Linked DNA regions of Homo sapiens. The protein of the gene in region 1 purifies or fractionates together with the protein of each later gene. This does not show direct contact. Each region holds a gene or a part of one and is shown on either strand. Other genes may lie near its edges.

Region 1 (5,361 bases):
GCACAGATCTAATAAGCTGTAGAGAAAAAAAGTATCATCCTATTTCTATGCGTGGGTTTTTTTTTAAATTGTTGTTATTTTACTTTGCCGTAATGTCTCTAATATTTTAGTTATGAACTCAGTTATCACTTAAACTCTGTAATGGTGCAAATCTGACTATGATCAGATATCCGTGTTTATAATCAATTTTACGTGAGGAATAGCCCCAGAAACATTTATATATAAGATAATAAATTAGTTTTAAAACATTAAGTGTAAACACACACATAGCAGCATTCTGTATTTTCTAATAACTTTCTAGCCTCTAAGTATTTCATAAGAAAAATCATAGATTATCACTTAATCAGGAAAAATAAAAAATGTATTTCCTGATATATTTACTTGGTTTTATTTTGAGAAATTTAAAGATAAAGAAAAGTATCTAGAATAAAGAATAAATATCTGATGTCATTGTTAAGATAAGAAATAGTAAAACAAATAATGTGGAAGTGCCTTATATTTTCTCCCTAAAAGCAGCCACTGTCATTCTAAGTGTCTTTCCCATCCAAGACATTAATTTAAATTTAAGAAAAAATACTATAAATATATTTTTACTAAGTGATAATACTGCCTTACAATCTATCTTTTTTATTTTTATGTTTTTCGAGATGAGATCTCACTCTGTCGCCCAGGCTGCGGTGCAGTGGCACCATCTCAGTTCATTGCAGCCTCAGCCTCCCTGGGATCAGGTGATCCTCCCACCTCAGCCTCCCAAGTGAGCTGTATTTCTTTGTAGAGACAGGGTTTTGTCATGTTACTCAGACTCATCTTGAACCCAGCCACTTTTTTAATTTTAAAAACTTCAATCATTGAAAATTGATGTCAGGCAGAATTATCCTAAGTAATGTTACGTACTCAATATAATTCAGTGTCTTAAAAAGTAAGGAAAGTTTGTAAGTTTGTCCTTTGATTAATATAAATAAATATTTACAATGAGTTAAAGTAAATTCAGGTTATGAAGTCTGTTCAATTATTTCTAACAATCACAAAGTAAATTTTGAAGTAAAATTTGATGATATCACCATCTTAGCCCATTTCATTTTGGTGGCTTTTTTTTATTTTCACATTGCGAAAATAACATTACATAAAAAATCAAAATTTTGCCCCTGCTTTTACCATTACAATTGGGAAAATAAAATCTTATAAAATTTTAATATTGGGAAAACTGGCCATCAATTATTAAGGTACTTAAAGTGCTATGACATCTACAGTGGAAACGTGTATTCAAATGTTTGTTGGCATTAAAATACTTGTAATCATTGTTACTGAAATGCCAATGCATGATTTCAACTGAAAAGGAAGGTGGAGAATCTATTTTACTAGATAAAATTAACTTTACTTATTTTCACAGCAAATTCACATAAGTGAGGCAACATCTGAAATATAATTTAAAAGTTTATGAATCTGGCTGTCAATGCCACTATTAAATAGCTTGTGAAAATTACCTAAAGCTCTCTCACCCTGTTTTCTCCTTTATCAACTAGAGATAACAACATATCTTCTCTTAGAAACCTACTGAAAGTTTGAAAGTAAAAGACATAGAACCTTGCTTGGTGTTTAGGTAATGCCTGTTAATGACTAGTGATTTATTGTTCTATAATAGTCACTTACATTTCCTGTTCTTCCTGAAAATTAGTAAGGTGCCTTAATATGTGTGATGAATTTTTACATCTTTGTAATTTATCCCATATTAGTAATATAGAATATTAAGAATTAAGTTTAAAAGTCACTGGCTATGAGATAACAATTTTTTTTTTTTCAGATGGGCTCTTGTTCTGCCACTCAGGCTGGAGTGCAGTGGTGGGATCATAGCTCACTGCAGCCTCAAACCCCTGGGCTCAAGCAATCTTCTTGCCTGTTACTCCCAAGTAGCTGGTATGACAGGTACGAGCCACCAAGTCTGGCTAATTTTCAATTTTTTGTAGAGATGGGGTCTCACAAAAGGCTGCTCTCAAATTCCTAGCCTCAAGTAATCCTCCCACCTCAGCCTCCCAAAGTGCTGGAATTACAAGTATAAGTCATTATGCCCAGCCAGTAATTTGTTTTTAAAATTGTCAGACAATTAAACATTCAAAATATTTAAAAGTATAGAAAAAAGTTACATTACTGATATTTCCAACTTTTAGGGTTTCTCAACATTTTCCACTTAACTACCCCTAATAGCAGAAGAGACTAAGTATGGATATATGGGGTGTATTAAAAGGCTTGCAGCAAGCAGAATGGCTAAAATCAATGTTAACACTATGTTAATCATGCCAAGAACATTTGCCAGCACCTTAACCTTTGTTTGTTTTTCTACTGTTCCTGTCCTACTTTCATTAGATGTAGGTACCCAAATAGCAGACATTTCCAATTCACAATCATAGTTTTAAAATCTGGTTTCATCTCAGGATATTATGAATTTGCAATCAATATATGGATAAAGATATGGAAGATTTATAAATTGGATAACAGAAAAATGTCTATGTTTGCCAATCTGCATCTTAGACAATGAACTAAGATAAGATATAATTGAGAGAGTACTTCTTTTTGCAAAAGTTATCCCAAAATGGTGATGAAAAAATAAAATGCAAATTTCAACTGAGAAGATTTAAAGTAGATATCATTATGGTTTCTAAGAACATGCATGTACCATATCATTCTTCCTTCTAGAATTAGAATGCTTTATATTTCTTATTCTAATTAGTTATTTTAAAATAATCCATGCTTAGATTCATAATTGCAAATGCCATTTGAATTAAAATAAATGCAAGTGACTACTATTATTCAAAGGGTACTATGAGATTGCACCTCTTAGCCAGCAACACAACTGTTTGCATGTTTTAACCAGATTCCAGACTTGAACAAATGTGGTGAAAATCAACACGAGCTCATCTCTGTGGAAACTGGCAAAGCAACAGATGCTGCTACTGGAAATAGCTGGGACTTTTGAATCCTTAGATAAAAAACATTTTGTAAAAAAAAAAAAAAAAAAAAAAAAAAAAAAAAAAAAGATTTATTCTGTACATTGCATTGCAATATTCACAGATTTAAAAGGGTATATATTATTGTTTAGTGTAATTTATTCCAGTATCAGTATGTCCATTTAAAATGGTAGAAGCAACATAGTCTAACCTTTTTATTTTTGACATTTTCCTTTCCTGATTCTGCCTCTAAACTGAACTAAGTCCATCCTTTTAACTGAATTAAACATTCATTCAAAGAACAGATCTGTGGAAGGTTTTAAAGTGAAAATGACAAAGTGAGTTGTTATTTGACAAGTCCTTAATTAAACTTTCAGGATATCTCTAACTCAGTTATTTTCCATTGTTTCTGCTAGCCGGGGATGGTGGATGTGTCACTCACACAAAGGGGGCACAATATGGTTAAAAACAATATAACCACAGGCCAAGGGAAATGTCTGAATGCTGTGACACAGAAAATATCACACAATCAATAACTTCTGAACATGGACGCTTTATCTAAACCTTACCCAATATAGATGTGTTTGCGGGAGATTGGGGGAGAGAAGAAAGGGAAGGAGGAAAGATAGAGGGATAGAGAGAATCAGACCCAGACAGAGAAAAAAGAGACAGGAGAGAGAGCAAAAGAGCGTTCTCCTGTAATGGTAGCTGTGGCTGTGTTTTATCACACGTACATCAAACAAAAGCAAAAACACAAAACAAAACAAAACAAAACAAAAAACAGAAGAGCAAATCCCTTTCAGTTAAGTCATGTAGTAATAATATCTCTATAGGATTATATGTCAAGTATCTCTCTAAGCACTATTTACAAGTTGTCTTTAATCCTCACAACTCTTCGAGGAAGAGACTGTTATCCCCCTTCCTATTTTCTAGAGGTGGAAACTGAGTCACAGAGGGATACAAGATAGTAGCATCACATAGAGGTGATGCAGCTGGAAATTGAACATAAGAAATCAGGCTTGAGGATTCATGCTGTTAATCTCATCTCTCTATCAAGTAGTACTGTGTAGGCAAAAGAAGAAACAAAAGAGAGTTTATCACTAGTAGTATAATTAGTGAATATTCAAATTAAAGTGTCAACTTTTGGTTACAAAAGCATCAAGTCTGTGATTCTGTGGTCAAGGGGACCAGATTTGCCACAATAAAAATCAAAGCAAGTGATGAAAGAAATGAACCTTTCTTCAGGGATGAACACCAGAGGCACTCTGCACAACTCCCTGCAGTAAGTACTGTGGTGTCAGACGACCCTGGGGCCGCATCCCAGCTCTACCACCTATGCTGTTTACCTTTGGAATGGTGCTTTGCCTCTCTGAACCTCCGTTTTTCTAATCTTGAAAATTATATTAAGAATAGTACTTATATTCTAGGATAATTGGAATAATTTTATGAGATATTGTATGCAATGTGTTTAGCAATGTCTTAATAAATATTAGTGATATTTATTGTAGCTGCTATTACATGTGGAAAAAGTATGGGAAACCAATTGATGAGTGAACTTTTAAGAATTAAAATAATGAATGAATCATCTTCCTACTGGACGGGAAAAAGAAATATTTGCTAATGTGACTGTTGGTTAAAATTGCTAATTATAAACATAAAAATAATAGTGGTGATATTAATTACATATTGAGTAATAATGTGCCAAATAGTGTGCTATATAGGTTTTATATATTTTATCTCATTATCTCATCACAGCAAAACTGTAAATAAGATTTTATTATTTTCATACTTCCAGGAGAATGATAGAGCTTGAAACTTCAAGTAACAGAGAATAAACAGCAAAGCTAAGTCCAGAACTCATACTGATTCCCAAACCTAAGCTCTTAACAAATAACTTTACTATCTAATGACTTCCTTAGTGAAGCATATTACACCAAAACATAGAATTAAAAATTAATATTATTTGTACAAATATATATAGGTGGTATATGTATATGTGTATATATATTTGAGTTGTTATTAAGTAAATTGTACACTGTTCATTTCTAGTGTGGCATCCAGATTTCTAACTACTTTCCTGAATAACAAAGCCTTTTGGTATCACTATAAGGATCTGAAGTGAAGAGATTCTATAGGACAATGCTAGCTGATATTCTGGTGTCCACAGTAAGTAAGTCATATCAGCCCTAGAGGCCAGTTGCAGAGAGGGTAAAGCATCGGTTTTAATGCCAGATGCACCTAACATCAAACACTGAATCCCAGCTCCACCAGTAATTAATATGTGACCTTACAAAAACTAATACATCTCTTTAAGCTTTAGTTTCATTATCTGTACATTAAGGCCCACCCTGCTGATTTTAAAAGAAGATTGTGAGAATTAAATGAAATTAAGTGACATATGTAAACTACATGCACAATA
Region 2 (4,430 bases), on another chromosome or scaffold:
CTAAACTAGGGTTTCTCATTCTCTGCACTATTAACATTTTGAGCAAGATAATTCTTTGTTGCCAGGGGCTGTGCTTTGTAGGATATTTAGAATCATCTTTGGCTTCTACACATTAGATATCAGGAGCATGTATCCCTCCCCATCCCCTACCCCCAACTGTAACAACCAAAAATGCCTCCAGATAGTATAGCGTCTGAGTCTAGGGTAGTAGTTGAAAACCACTACCCTAACTAATAGTTCTCGAGGTGTGATCCCCAGACCAGTACATCTGCATCCCCAGGGACTTGCTAGAAATGTCAGTTCTCAGGCCCTAGCCCAGATCTACTGAATCAGAATTTCCAGGGGAAGGGCCTGATAACCTGTGAACTAACTACCTTTCCAGGTGGTTCTGACGGATGTTAAAGTTTGAGAACTATTGATCTAAACATAAGGCCATCCTTAGGGAATAAAAGCAACTCTGCTTCTTTTCTAAGTCTCCATGGCTCCGGCCCCCTAGGTCCAACCCTTGCTTTGATCCACTTCTATTTGTGCTGTTTGATTAATCTATAATCTCTTTTGCCCCTAACCTATTGTTAAGACTGCTCTATCCTCTTCAGAAAACATTGGCTTCCCCACTGGCATTTTAGGCTGGTCCCACTGGAAGCCCTATGGCCTCAAAAGCAGGAACCATCTTTCTCTAGACACAAAGTCAGAAAGGGACCTTCCAAGTCTTCCCACCCCAATGCTCAGGTGTCCCTCTATGTCCCTAACCATCTCTCTGTTCTCTCTCTCTCTCTTTTTGTTTAGAGCTGGGGGTCTCACTATATTGCCCAGGCTGGTCTTGAACTCCTGGGCTCCAGTGATCCTCTGCCTTGGCCTCCCAAGGTGCTGGGGACTACAGGTGTGAGCCACTAGATCCAGCCAAATCCCTGTTTTCTGTCAGCCTCCTCTAGCTCCCTGCTATAAGACAGAAGCAACGATTGGCAAGTCCTGGGCTCAGGGCACCAACAAGTCTTTCTGGCTTTGGTAGCCAGTTCCAATACTTTCCCAGGTTTTATGGATGACTCACCTCTTGGGTACTCTACAGGAAAGTGATCTTCCAAAATTTTTTCATTGTATTTTTCAACTAACATACCTTAAAACATAGAGTCCATTTAGAATGTCCCAAAACAGTGTGTATCATCAGAGTCCATGTGGCAGCAGATCTTTCATCACAACACACCACCAGAGTCAACTTCCTAAATCTTATTTCTCCTTTGCTCAGCAATTGCCAGTAGCTAAACAGTGTTAGCAGATAAAAGTACAAACTTTTTAGTCAGGCTTCATGGTTTTCCATGGGAAGTGATGAGCAGAGCAGTTTGGAGCCAGATTTAACTAGGATTCAATTCCAGCTGGACTGCTGAGTAGCTGCATGACCTGAGACAAGTCATTAAACCACTCTGAGTCTCATTTTCCTGGTCTACAAAATGTAGATAAGTCCACATCAGAGTTTTGCTGTTAGAATCCCTGAAATCATGAATCTAAGTACCACACAAATGCCACTGTTAGTAAAACTTTTTAAATCAAGCTATTTTGGGGCTTTACAACCATTAACTCACCCCTAACATGCTCTCCAAAGCAGGTACACACTTGGTGTAATAAGCAGACACATAGGTGGCCGTATCGAGCTTACCCAAAATTCCTGTACTCTTTACAATGTAGTGCTGAGCAACAAAGAAGCCTCTTCCCCTGTGCCCACACCCACACTCACTTCTGCCCCTCAGCTGCAGGGCTGCCCCAGCCCTCTCAAATCAGAGAATGCGCCTCCTCGCTCCAAGTCTGTCATTAACCAGCTGTCTGGGGCTAAATGATTTCAAAAGCCCCTTCTCCACATAAAATTCTAAAAAAAGAATCATTAAAAAAAGCAACAGGATCCAAGCTAATTGCATATCAATCATGAGTGAATATTAAGCAACTCTAAAACACTAACATAAATCACCAAGAAAATGAAATGCAATTCTGCCCAGACACAGTGCTCCTGTAAAGGTGTGCTTGAGTATACAAGCATCCATATTATCATTAATGCCGGTTCCTCCTGACTTCTCACCAACTGCTCCTCGTCTCCATGGTAACAGCCCTTCCACTCATCAGGAACCTACTGAACATACAACTCCATCGTTTTTTTTTTTTTCTCTCTCTACCCAAGGAAGTCAGAGCAAAGGTAGGATCCACAGGAAACATAATGCAGACAAGTTCAGGGTGGGCACAGCCCCCTCTTCTCCTTTATATCCAAATTCCGCACCCTCTCCCTGCCACCCTTTCCCCTGCAAGGCCCCCTCAGTCCTCTCCACCCTCCCAGGTGCCAGACTGCAAGTCCCCACACTCTCACCATGTTGGAAATGCTGCGGGTATTGGCAGGATTCAGCATGACAATCTCAGTTGTGATGTGGCCCTCCACCGCCTCAGTCATCTCATCCACTGTGCAGTTGATAGAAGGGTCGTAGATCTTGAACCAATTGTCAGCATACCACCCAATGAGGAACCAGACGTACTTCTTCCCAAAGAGACGCTCCTTGTACACCTGAATACAGAGGAGAATGGCTGAGTTTTTGTTTGCTCATTTGTTTGTTTTTGTCTTATCTCACTTGATACTATTTAGCCTCTTGGGAATCAGGGAAGAGCAGTAGAACTAAAAAGAGAAATCTACAAGTCTTGGGGATAGTAGGAAAGGCTGACAATTCTTCCTTCTAAGTTTCTCCCCAGCCCCTGTATTTCTGAGTGGCCTTTTCCAGCCAGTCAGGACAGATGGAATTCATGGGCTTCTCAGGAAACACAAAGCAGTAGAAAAATGAGATCTGAAGAAAGTATCATGTGTGTGCAGACAAGGGATGCAGTCAGAGCCAACAGACAGAGACATCCTATGAATCGTCACCTCAGATCATATGCTATCAACTCAGGCACAGATGCCAAGAGGAGGCCCCACAAGAAAACCAAGGGAAACTCCCACCCAGTGCCCCTCCCTCTTCAGATCCAACTCCACCTCACAAAAAACTTTCCGGGCTTCAGTCTCATAGAAAAGTCCCACGATGATTCGGGCATCCTGGCGCTACAACAGAGAAAGAAACAGCTCCTGAGGGATGCCCGGGAATGCCTGAGGGGCTAAGCCAGATGTCTTCACAGCTTTGATTTCCCATCCCAAAGTGCTTAGTGCAGGGTAACGCTCAACGTATAGTGAATAAACGTCAACTGGAAGATGGAGCTAAACTTCCCCAGGAGATGCTATTGCCTCAGAGAATCAAAACCTGCCCCCGCCTGGCTTTCCTCTCCAACCAGTCACTGTCCCCCAGCTTGGTCCCTCCGTAAACAGAGCCCACCACTCCCAGCCATCTGACCTTCAGGTTTTTGACGGGCACAGCTGGATCTGAGAAGAAACTCTGGCGGAAAGTAATCTCAATTCCAGCCTCCTTCACTCGTTCCTCCAGGTCGTCCAGAGTCTTGGGTGGGAATAAAAAACAAGTTGGAAAAACACGGGGTGCATGAGGGAATAAAGACCAGAGAGGTTAACTGGGGATTTCAGAGCAATACTCAGATAGAGCAAAGAAGCAGCCATTCTGAACCTTCCTTCAACAGCTTCTGTCCCTGAAGTGAGGAGTTCGGGAAGGCATCTGGTCTTAGGATGTGGATTCCAAGTGGGAAGGTGAATGGTGAGCCCCTGCTGAGGCTCTGTGTGGGGGAAGCCACTCCATTCACCCACTCCTACCACTGAAGGCAAAGATGGGGTAAAGAAACATAAAGGAACCAGGAAAAGACAAGGCAAGGACTGGGACAGACAGCATGATGTCAACCTCAAGAGGCAAATGGGCAGACAGACAAAGGATCAGAGAAGAATGGTCTGAATCAGAGTGAAAGTGGGGGAGGATTAAAGGGCCACTGAACACAGTGGATAGAAGACCCAAAGAATAGAATAAAAGGGAGGGAGCAGACTGCCTTCTTCAGATGTAGAGCCTGTATTTCCTCTCTACCTCCCCAAATCTCCCTCTTCCCCCTCAACCTCTCCTTGTCTGTCGGCTTCTCTCTCTTAGTACCAACTACCAGATCCATGCAGCTGCCTTTCTGCCCCTCTCTCTCCTCTCCCTCATTCCTCTCTCTCTCTCTCTTTCCTCTCCCTCTCTCCTCTGTAATCCACTGGCTCCATCCCCTCTGTTCCCATTCACACCCACCCACCACCCCCCTTGAAAGCCTCTGGAATCTGCTGCCTTCCTGGATTCCTATCTCATCTTCGCTCCCATCTCTTGCCCCCACTTTGGATTGAACCTACTTTAACAGAACTGAGTCATTCTGGGTCTATATGTCTGGGGAACAGGGCATCAAACAGGGGAAAAAAATCATAAAATCATAAAGACAGAGAGGATCCCAAAAACTCAACTCATTCTTTCCCCTGGCTACAGAAAGAACTGCACTTAATCCACATG

What was found.
Region 2: the proteins of KCNJ3 (region 1) and GABBR1 purify together in Homo sapiens (affinity purification with western blotting; one study listed by BioGRID). This does not show direct contact.

Annotation. Positions count from the first base shown.
Region 1 is NC_000002.12:154,847,679-154,853,039, reverse strand, and holds part of KCNJ3 (G protein-activated inward rectifier potassium channel 1), read right to left. Parts: intron 1-5,361. UniProt on the Homo sapiens protein: Inward rectifier potassium channels are characterized by a greater tendency to allow potassium to flow into the cell rather than out of it.
Region 2 is NC_000006.12:29,618,754-29,623,183, forward strand, and holds part of GABBR1 (gamma-aminobutyric acid type B receptor subunit 1 isoform a precursor), read right to left. Parts: intron 3,453-4,430; coding exon 3,351-3,452; intron 3,065-3,350; coding exon 2,999-3,064; intron 2,540-2,998; coding exon 2,348-2,539; intron 1-2,347.